Linked DNA regions of Homo sapiens: region 1 is linked to region 2. Evidence: fine-mapped expression QTL. A gene starts in region 2. The other region holds a variant in brackets. All regions are shown on one strand. Distances are from middle to middle.

The links. PIP is the estimated chance that this variant, and not a neighbour inherited with it, causes the effect.
Region 1: its variant is the best candidate, but not a certain one, in a credible set for the expression of LINC02175 in anterior cingulate cortex (GTEx, PIP 0.58).

What each region holds. Positions count from the first base shown.
Region 1 is chr16:25,026,192-25,031,683 of GRCh38, reverse strand. No RefSeq gene overlaps it. Among named protein-coding and RNA genes, the nearest start is that of ARHGAP17, 14 kb to the right of the region's middle. RefSeq lists an enhancer at 38-217. The variant G/A (reference allele first, on the strand shown) is at 2,393.
Region 2 is chr16:25,063,909-25,069,150 of GRCh38, reverse strand. It overlaps LINC02175 (long intergenic non-protein coding RNA 2175), which reads right to left and starts at 2,264. Exons shown (of 2, transcript NR_135197.1): 1 at 1,505-2,264; 2 at 196-1,372. RefSeq lists a silencer at 1,972-2,361.

The sequences.
Region 1 (5,492 bases), 38 kb after region 2:
GCTCATTGGGCAATTATCCCTTCCTCTCAGCCTACAAAGGTACTCATTGGATAAGTTTTTTGGCCCCGCCCACCCAACCCGGAAGTTTGCCGACGGAGAAAGGAAACTAAAAGTCAGTGGCGGAGTACCGCGATGCTTTCTGGGAAGTGTAGTCTTAGGTGCCTGGAGAGGCCACCAGGTTTCTTCTGACTCGTCACGGAATTTTAAGGGCAGAGAATCCAGCCAGAAGCAAATGTCAGCTGTTACGTTCAGTCTGGGCTCGTTGTCACTCAACAGTTTAACAAAATTTTGTTAAGTGCTGTCCATGCCAGGGACTGTGCTAAGAGCTTTAGAGACATAATCGCCTTTGAAATGTAGTAAAGGAAGTAGCGTGTGGAAAAGTAATAGAATGGGAAACCACGTGGCAGTAAAAATCAATGAACTCGAACTCTCAGGTAGCATCAAGGGCTGAATTTCAGAAACGTGATGTTCAGTGAAAGAAGGAAGTCTAACGACACTTTTGTAAAGTTCAAACCAAGTAAAACTAATGTTGTTTAGAGAAACATACATATACGGTAAAATACTGTACAGAAAAGCCAAGACATGAGAAAAAAAAAAAAGTCAGGACATTGATGACCTCTAGGGAGTGGGACGGTAGCATACGAGAGGGTAGGGAGAGGCAGGGAAGGAGCACATAGACACATTCTCAGTTTCTCAGGTGGGAGTGAGTTCACGTGTGTCTGTTTCATTATGATGCATATTCAAGATGCATCTATTTTTACTAGTTTTGTTATAAAATATTTTATAAATAAAAGAAGAACTATGCTACTGTATTCCACTTGATTATCTGTCAGGTGTTGGACACAGGCAATGGGTATACTTTAAGAACTTTGAATCACACCTATTTAAAAAAGCAAAATAGCTCTCTCTCTTCTGCCGCCACGTAAGATGTACCTGCTTCCCCTTCCACCATAACTGTTAAGTTTCCTGAGGCCTCCCCAGCCATGCAGAACTCAACATCCTTGCGACTGGGGGCCATTATCTTAAGTGAAACAACTCAGACACAGAAAGTAAAATATGCATGTTCTCGCTTCCCTGCCTACAAGCTGAGCAGACGCCAGCACCATGCTTCCTGTAAAGCCTGCAGAACCACGAGCCAATGAAACTGCCTTTCTATATAAGTTTTTTTTTTTTAAAGCAAAATAACAGAAACCCAGAATATACACCTTGGGGTGAGATCAGATAGCAAATGCTTGCTTAGTATTCAGTGGAGACACAAGATCTCATTGACAGTCAAGGCAGAAATGACAGTGGGGAATGGCTGAGGTTAGGAAGTTTTGCCAGGGATAGCAGCAATGGGCTGAAATACACCATTTTGTTGGAGCATTCCTCTACCAAAAAGGTAATACAAACCACTGCGCAAGCATTGTCTCCCAGCTTGGCAGTGTCTAAATTCCATGGGTGTTAGTGGATAATGTCAAACAGTAAGTAGCACAAGATGTTAATCCCACAGGTCTGGACGGTGAGACTGAAGGTGACTAGAAGAAGGTGGAGGCAGATGTATTGGCACACCTTTGTTATTGGGTGAGCCTTGATTCAAAACAGCTGGTAATTCAGGGAAATTTGGTTAGTTGGACTCTAGACAAAGTGAACTTACTGGGTGTGGACCACGACACTAGTAGATTGACTGGCATTCTCTGGAGGAGGAGGATGGCTACCCATAGAGCAGGCTGCTGGCCTCCCTTTCCTCATAACCTCTGAGAAGAGTCACATGTGATCTGATGACAAAAAAACCCTGTAACTTGAGGGAATTTGGACAGGGGTGGGGATACCCTTAAAACACCTGGAATCCAGCCAGGCACGGTGGCTTATGCCTGTAATCCCAGCACTTTGGGAGGCCAAGGTGCACGGCTCACCTGAGGTCAAGAGTTCGAGACCAGCCTGGTCAACATGCTGAAACCCCATCTCTACTAAAAATACAAAAATCAGCTAGGTGTGGTGGCGGGTGCCTGTAATCCCAGGTACTCAGGAGACTGAGGCAGGAGAATCACTTGAACCTAGTAGGTGGAGGTTGCAGTGAGCCGAGACCGTGCCATTGGACTCCAGCCTGGGTGACAAGAGCAAAACTCCATCTCAAAAAAGAAGAAGAAGAAGAAGAAGAGGAAGAGGAAGAAGAAAAAGAAGAAGAAGAACCACCTGGAATCCCACTAAATTGAAACATGGTACACTGTCAGCCCAAGTGGCTACACTTCAGGCAGTAAGCACTGAATGGCTATCTTAGTCCATTTTGGCTGCTATAACAAAATATCATAAACTAAGTGACTTATAAACAAAAGAATGGCTGGGCACAGTGGCTAATACCTATAATCCCAGCACTTTGGGAGACTAAGGTGGGAAGATCACTTTAGCTCAG[G/A]AATTCAAGACCAGTCTGGGCAATGTGGCGAAACCCCATCTCTACAAAAAAATTTAAAAACTAGCTGGGTATGGTGGAGTGTACCTGTAGTCCCAGCCTTGGGACTGGGCTGAGATGGGGAGGATCACTTGAGTCTAGGAGTTCAAGACTACAGTGAACTATGATTGCACCACTGCACTCTAGCCTGGGTGACAGAGAGAGACCCTGTCTCAAAAAATAAATACATATATACATACATAAAAATAAACCACGGAAATTTATTTATCATGGTTCTGGAGGCTGGCAAGTCCAAGGTCAAGGCAGATTCTGTGTCTGGTGAGGGCCTGCTTTCTGACTCATAGATGATGCTGTCTTGCTGTATCCTCACTTGGTCAAAGGAGCGAGGTGTCTCTCTCAGGTCTCTCTTATAAGGACACTAATCACATTCATGATAACTCTGCCCTCGTGGCCTGATCGCTTCACAAGAGCCCCACATCCTAATACACTGGGAGTTAAAATTTCAGCATTTGAGTTTCAGGGAGACAGAAACATTCAGACCACAGCAATGCCCTAGCCAACAAATGACTCCATCTCCATATTTATAGCAAACTCTTGGGCCATTGTCTAAGAATTGTTCCCTTTGTGCTCATAAAGAACTCTGGGAATCTCTTGCCTCATAAATACTGAAAATATAAACCGAGGTAATAGATAACTCATGTTTTTAAAATGGTCGGGTGTGGTGGCTTATGCCTATAATCTCAGCACTTCGTGAGGCCAAGGCAGGAGGATCACTTGAAGTCAGGAGTTCGAGACTAGCCTGGCCAACATGGCAGTCTCTACTAAGAATACAAAAATTAGCTGGCTACCTGGGAGGCTGAGGCATGAGAATCACTTGAACCCAGGAGGTGGAGGTTGCAGTGAGCTGAGATTGTATCACTGCACTCCAGCCTGGGCGACAGAGTGAGACTCTCTCTCAATTAAAAAAAAAAAAAAAGATATCTCTACATCTACGTATACAAAGGCCACAATATAAGGTCTCACTGTGGCACTCCATATACTCTTGGAAGTCCTACACATTACTGGTAGTGATCAGGGTACTTATTTCACATCTCAGAATCCACAGTGCCTCATGGGCTCTTGGAGAAGGCATTAATAGAACCTTCCACTTCTCTGATATCCCCAAGCAGCAGGCTCGAGAGGCATACGTGCTCCTGGAAGAACTCTTATTTAAGTTACAAAGTGGAAAATGCACATCATCCCTTCACACCTCCACTCCTGTTTCCCTGTCACCACAGTCATCGATTAGTCACACCTCAGCGGGGACCCACAATTCCTATGCCAGTGCCACACAGGTCCCTCAATTGCCTGTATTGGCCAGCCTGGGGGACATCTGTAAAGCTCATGTTTTTGAAGACTACCTCGCCCTGTGGTCCTCTTTCTCGTGGTTAGGTGCTAAACCCAGGAGGTGGAGGCTGCAGTGAGCTGAGATCGTGCCCCACTCCACTCCAGCCTGGGTGACAGAGGGAGCCTCTGTCTCAAAATAAATAAATAAATAAAATAAAAGTAAAATGTTTCTAGTGCAAACTTTGTTGAAGGCATCACCCTGCTATGATTAGGCTTATGGGTTTAAAGTTATTTGGGTAATAGTCTGTTTGGGGTTTGCAAGAAGTGACACGTGGCTGGAGGGTGGTCTATGAGTAGAAAGCAAGGCTCTAAAGGCAAGTCCTCAAATACCCTGTTAAAGTTTGGACTCCAGGCAGTGGAAACTCCTGAAATAATTTAAAGTAGGTAAGCAACGTTATCAGATTTTCATGCCAGAAAGTCCACCCTCATGGCGGTGTGGGGAATGGATTCAAGGGAGGCCAGGAGTGGAACCAGCAAGGTCAGTAAGGAGTCAATTGCCCCAGTCCATATAAGGACAGGAAGGAATGGACCACAGACATGGGGACAGGGAAAAGAGGAACAAAATGTGATATATTCATTGGTTCATTGGATATGAAGGGGGTGTGAAAGAGAGAGAGAGACACAGCACTTTGTTAGGCCGAGGAAGGCAGTTCACCTGAAGTCAGGAGTTCGAGACCAGCCTGGCTAACATGGTGAAACTCCGTCTCTACTAAAAATACAAAAAATTAGCCAGCTGTGGTGGTGCACACCTGTAATCCCAGCTACTCAGGAGGCTGAGGCATGAAAATTGCTTGAACCTGGGAGGTGGAGGTTGCAGTGAGCCCAAGTTGCGCCACTGCACTCCAGCCCAGGTGACAAAGTGAGACTCTGTCTCAAAAATACAGGGGAGAGAGAAAGAGAGAGATCAGTCATGGTTCTGAGGCCTCTTCCTTGGGTTATAAGAAGGCTATAATGGAAGATATTGAGTTTCTTTTACTTTTCTATTATTATTATTATTTGAACAGGGTCTCACTCTGCAGCCTCTACCTCCTGGGCTTAGGAAATCCTCCCACTTCAGCCTCTGGACACACCCACATGAGTGTGCCTAGCTGAGACTACATGCATGTGCCAACATGTCTAGCTGATTAAAAAAAATTTTTTTGTTTTTGAGTTAGAGTCTTGCTCTGTCGCCCAGGCTGGGTGGAGTGCAGTGGCATAATCTTGGCTCACTGCAACCTCCGCCTCCTGGACTCAAGCTATTCTCCTGCCTCAGCCTCCCAAGTATCTGAAATTATAGGTGTGCACCACTACGCCCGGCTAATTTTTTGTATTTTTAGTAGAGATGGGGTTTCACCACATTGGCCAGGCTTGTCTTGAACTCCTGAACTCAAGTGATCCACCCACCTTGGCTTCCCAAAGTACCGGGATTAAAGGCATGAGCCACCGTGCCTGGCTAATTTTTTTGTAGAGACAGGGTTTCCCTATGCTGCCCAGGCTGGTCTCCAACTCCTGGGCTCAAGCAATCCTCCTCCCCAAAATGCTGGGATTACAGGCATGATGCTTCTTTTTTCTTTTTTTTTGAGACAGAGTCTTGCTCTGTTGCCCAGGCTGGAGTGCAGTGGGGCTATCTCAGCTCACTGCAACCTCTGTCTCCCGGGTTCATGCCATCCTCCTGCCTCAGCCTCCCGAGTAGCTGAGACTACAGGTGCCCGCCACCACGCCCAGCTAATTTTTTGTA
Region 2 (5,242 bases):
CCTGACTCAGCCTCCCAAAGTGCTGGGATTACGTGCACGAGCCATCATGCCCTGCCTTAATTTTTAAAAATTAACTGTAGAGACAGGGTCTCCCTCTCTTGCCCAGGTTGACCTTGAACTCCTGGGCTCAAACTATCCTCCTGCCTCAGCCTCCCAAAGTGCTGGGATTGCAGGCATAAGCCACTACACCCAGCCTAACATGAGGCATTCTTTTTATTTTTTTTTGAGACAGGGTCTCACTCTGTCATACAGGCAGGTGGGTGGTGACAGCGACCATGACCACGGGTCAACCTGGGCCTCAGACACTGGGGAAAGGTGGCCATGTCCAGTTTTCTCAGGAAATTAGGAGGCAGGTCATCCGAGGAGAGAGGGTGTGTCTGGGGTAGGGTGGAGTAGCTTTCAGAAAAGTGTAAGTCTGGCAAAAGCACTCAGGAAAATGGGACAGAAAATGAGCCAAGCGCTGGATGGCAGCGTTCATTCAGCCCAGCTGAGCTTGGAGGCCATGAAATGCTGGCAGCCCCACACTGCAAGACTGCAGGGTCTTTCTGGGCCACGCCCCGAATCCCAGGTATGGAAGTGAAGGACCCAAAAAGAGGAACGAATCAGGCTGTTATTCTGCAGAACAGGTGAAAGAAAAAAGCCAAGTAGACAGAGCCTTGGAAGTCAAAGAGTCACCCACATGCCTGACCCAGTCAGAAGAAAGGGGACCAAGCCAGGGCGGGAGGGACTGTGTGGGAAAGAGGAGGCTGAAAGGAGGAGAGACCGCGGGCAGAGGTGGACAAGGGACCAAGGTGAAGACCTTTGAGGTGCTTCTTGAACCACAGTGGTGAATGTCTTTCTGGACAAGAGTGCCAGTGCCCACCGCCATCACAGGACACAGCCCCATCCGCACTCCCGGGACAGCAACATCTCATTGTCCCAAACTCTGCCAATTTCATCAGTGAAAAGTGGAGCCTGGAAGCTTTGCATTTCTTCAATGACTTCGAATTTTTTAAAATGGTCTCACAGATTTCCTGGTCATCGGTATTTCATCTGAAAAGTCTCTTTCTGTGATATCTGCTCATTAGAGCGGAGTTCTTAAAATTATTAGAGAGTGTTATACATTCAGTATATTCACCTCTGTGGTGGTTGCTCTCAGTTTTGTCCAGTTAGTCATTCATCATAAATTTAACTTTGATATCATAATAAAACAGACAAAAGTGTAGTTATTATGTGCTTAAATCTACAGGTGCTTTTTTAAAAAGTTCTTTTTAGAGACAGGGTTTTGCCCTGTCGCCCAGGCTGGAGTGCAGTGGCGCGATCTTGGCTCACTTCAGCCTCCACCTCTTGGGTTCAAGCCATCCTCCTGCCTCAAACTCCAGAGCAGCTGGGACTACAGGTGAAAATATCACAATTATATGTTAGAGAGAGAGAGAATGAATCATTGTAAAACAATGAAAAGGTGAAGAATGTCTGTTACCTGTGTAAGTAACATCTACATCAACCCTCACCTGAAGTTCCTCACCTCTTCCCTTGCTCTTTTCTTCAGCCCAAACACGGTGTTCAACGTTCTTCCCAGTCACCGCCCAAGGCCGCTGTCTTAGCCCTGCCGTCATCACCTCTCTGAGCCTACTGCAGTAGCTTCCTATCTGGGTTCCCTTTCCATTCCTCCCGGGTCCCGACTCCATCGGCTGCCAGTTGACTTCCCACAGCACCAACTTTTCTCAGCCTTCTGCCTATGAGAGCTCCCCAAATTCTACCACGGGAGCCCTCAAACCATGATCCTCCCCAAAACGTGAACAGCAGCTTCTCGAACCATGGACAGATGGCACAGATGACAACCGAAGCCAATCACCACTGCCTGTCCCTGGAAGTGGACGCTCCGGGTCATGGGTGGCCATGTATCTCGGTCCTGCTATCCTGGGTGGTTGGAGGAATTCTAGCAGTGAGAGTTGAAAACCGCTCGGCGCGCGGCAAGAGAGGATGAAGCCCGAGTCTGACCTGGGAAGGGAGCTGCTCCCCGGGCAGTGGACCCCAGGGCTGGCGGGGAGGCGGCCTCGGTCAGCCCAGTTGGTCTCGGGCCGCTGGGCCTCAGCCCCCAAGCCTGGTGCCCGCTGGCCCCGGAGGAGCTGTCCCGCCCCCTCCGGCACTCGCCTTCCGGGGCTTGGTCGGCTAGCTGCTTCACGCGCGCGGGCTGGGGGCCCCAACGGCGGACGAGCGCTGCTCCCACCGCTCCAGCGCCCAGACTGTAGCGGCTCCGCCTCCGCGGTCCGTTGGCCCCGCCCCCACGTCTCTTCCGGGGCCCCGCCCACCCCCTTCGGGCCCGCCCAGCACGGCCTCCCCTTGTGGCCTGGAGCCCCAGGCCGAGGGCGCAGAGACCAGAAGGCCGAGCTGGGCGGCGACCCCCGTTCTTGCCCGGTCACTTCCTGCGGCGCCGCCTGCCCGCTGGCAAACTGTGGCTGGGAGACCCTTTAAATAGAACGTATTAGCCAAAACTAGAAGAGCAAAATATGTACCATGTTTCAATTTAATGGGATTGCCAGGTGTTTTAAGGGTCCGCCGCAACGGTCCCTCGAGTCCCGGGGTTTTTGTCCCCATCAGATCATTCGTGGTGTGGATCTTCCGGGAGGTTATGGGAAAGGGAGACCAGCAGCCGGCTCCGTGGGCGGCCATACTGCTCCCCCAGGAAGGCCAGGCAAATCTTCAGTGCTGGGATCCCCCTAGTACGTTCATTTTGTCTAGGGTCCAGGTGGGGCCATCGAGCCCCTTGCCCACAGGATTGGTCCTTTGGCATGCAGATAAGCAACACCGCCAAGAAAAGCCCATGGGGTCTTTAGGCTGTTAGGAGACCACCAGGGAGCCATTCCTAAATCTTCCCAGGTGATGGTTCCAAAAACCCTGGTGTTTGGGGAAAGGAAAAAGGGTTATCCACAGGACTATGCTGGAACACTTTCCCAAACAGTGTCTGCCTGGCTGTCCCAAGCAGCCGGTGATGGAGCGATGGTCATGAGGCTAGACCAAAGACCACAGAGTCTAGCCTCACTCTAGTGGAACTCAGGCACCCACCCGTTAGGATGTCGTGTTGCTGCTGCCCCCAGGTGGGAGCCTGGGAAACCACCTGGCCGACACGGGCCACACCTGATGGGACCTCACAAGGAGATACAGTCCATTAACGTTCGTCAGGGTGGGAAGAAGTGGCAACACCTACTGAGATAACAAAACTCATTAGCTGAAGGGCAAGCTGGCCAGCAACTGGCAGTGATGTTCTCAATAGTCCTGGCCGCCTTATAAAACCAGCTACTTAGGCCGGGCACGGTGGCTCACTCCTGTAATCCCAGCACTTTGGGAGGCTGAAGTGGGTGGATCACAAGGTCTAGGAGTTCAAGACCAACCTGGCCAGTATGGTGAAACCCCGTCTCTACTAAAAATACAAAAATTAGCCTGGTGTGGTGGTGGGCGCCTGTAGTCCTAGCTACTTGGGAGGCTGGGGCAGGAGAATCGCTTGAACCCGGGAGGAGGAGGTTGCAGTGAGCTGAGATCGCGCCACTGCACTCCAGCCCGGGAGACAGAGCAAGACTCCGTCTCTAAATAAATAAATAAACAAACAAACAAAACCAGCTACTTAGTAAAGGAGCAGCTAGTTAAAGCTAACCAGGGGTCCTCAATCAAGGATGGGCCACACTGTTTGTGATGCCAATCGTTTTATTCACACTCTTTACTCCATTGATGAAAGAGGGATTCCTTCCCCCCACGCTCCTGCCCCCGCCCCTGTCCCCACCCCCAGAGATACGGGGATGGCCGAACACACAACACTTGATGCAGGACGGATGCAATCAACAGCAGCTGACTGGTCACAGATACTCCAGTCCAGGGGAGAAGGACCCTGCACACTATGCAGGGCAATGTGGAGGCTACACTCCGGAACACGGTAACAAGGAGGGGCTGCTGGAGGCAGGCTTTGTAGTAACAAAAGTGCAGAGTGAGCCCTGGTTCCCACGGGAGGGTGTGACTGGCTTGTCTGAATAATTCGTCCTTGAGCTGGCAGGGAACTGAAGCCTACTGTTTGGGGATAAGCAGGCTCTGTGTCTGATCCCTAAAATAAGGAGAGTGTTTAGCCAGAGAATTTCATCTGCGGAAGCAGACAGGGAGCGAGGCTTGGAGTTCAGCCATTTGAGGCCCTCTTGATTTAAATGGATGTAAAGACAGAATTTGATATGAATCCTAATTTCAGGCCTTACACCACAATACACTATTAAAAAGTAAGTTTTCCGAGAACTAGTCATTGAGTTCAGTGTCACAAGATTTTAAATAAACATTCTAAACTCAACTGTGGCATAGTGGTTCACGCCTGTAATCCCAGCACTTTGGGAGGCCAAGATGGGAGGATTGCTTGAGCCAGAGGTTCGAGACCAGCCTGGGTAAGATGGTAAGGCCCTATCTCTACAAAAAAAATATATAAATTAGCCAGGTATGGTGATGAGAGCCTGTGGTCCCAGTTCCATGGGAGGCTGAGGTGGGAGGACCACTTGAGGCTAGGAGGTCAAGGCTGCATTGAGCCATATTCACGCTGCTGGGCTCCAGCCTGGGTGACAGAGTGAGACCTCATCTCAAAAAATAAAGAAAGAAGATAATTTCACCTATTGCTTAACATAGAAAATGGGAGCCCTCAGAATGAGACTCCCTTAACTTCCCCAAGAAACTTAACCATCCTTTTTTACTCTTACAGTTGTGAATGTCCTCCAGTAAAGACCACATGAAACACTTTGTAGTTAAGCAAGTTGGGTTTATTACTTGTTGCAAGGAGGGAAGACTCACACCATGAGGAGCCTATCAGTAAGAGGATGTTAGACCTTTAGGATCTGGGCTTTGGCTGGGTGATTTGGGGGAGGGTCCAGGGGTTTGCTCTGGATCGAGTGCTGATAGGAGGTAGGAAAATTCTATCATCCGGTAGCGGTATCTTTTCTAGAAAGAGGTTTGGCTGGAGTAGGGCTAAAGCTACAATGTGTAAAGAAGCCACAGTCACTCCTATCAGCTGGGAGAAGGGAATGTCTGGTATTCTGTGGGTGGCACAGTGACCTTGCTTTTGTCCTTACACAGAATGATGACGTGGTCTCGTGTCATCTCCTATCATCACCACTGCAGAGTGTCCTTGTGTGAGTGGTCTGCATGATTGTTTATGTCCAATAGGAGAACAACATGGCCTTGTTGTGGGCACCAGCCAGCTTCCAAAAACATACGGCCTGGCTCACAGCACCAGGCAAGC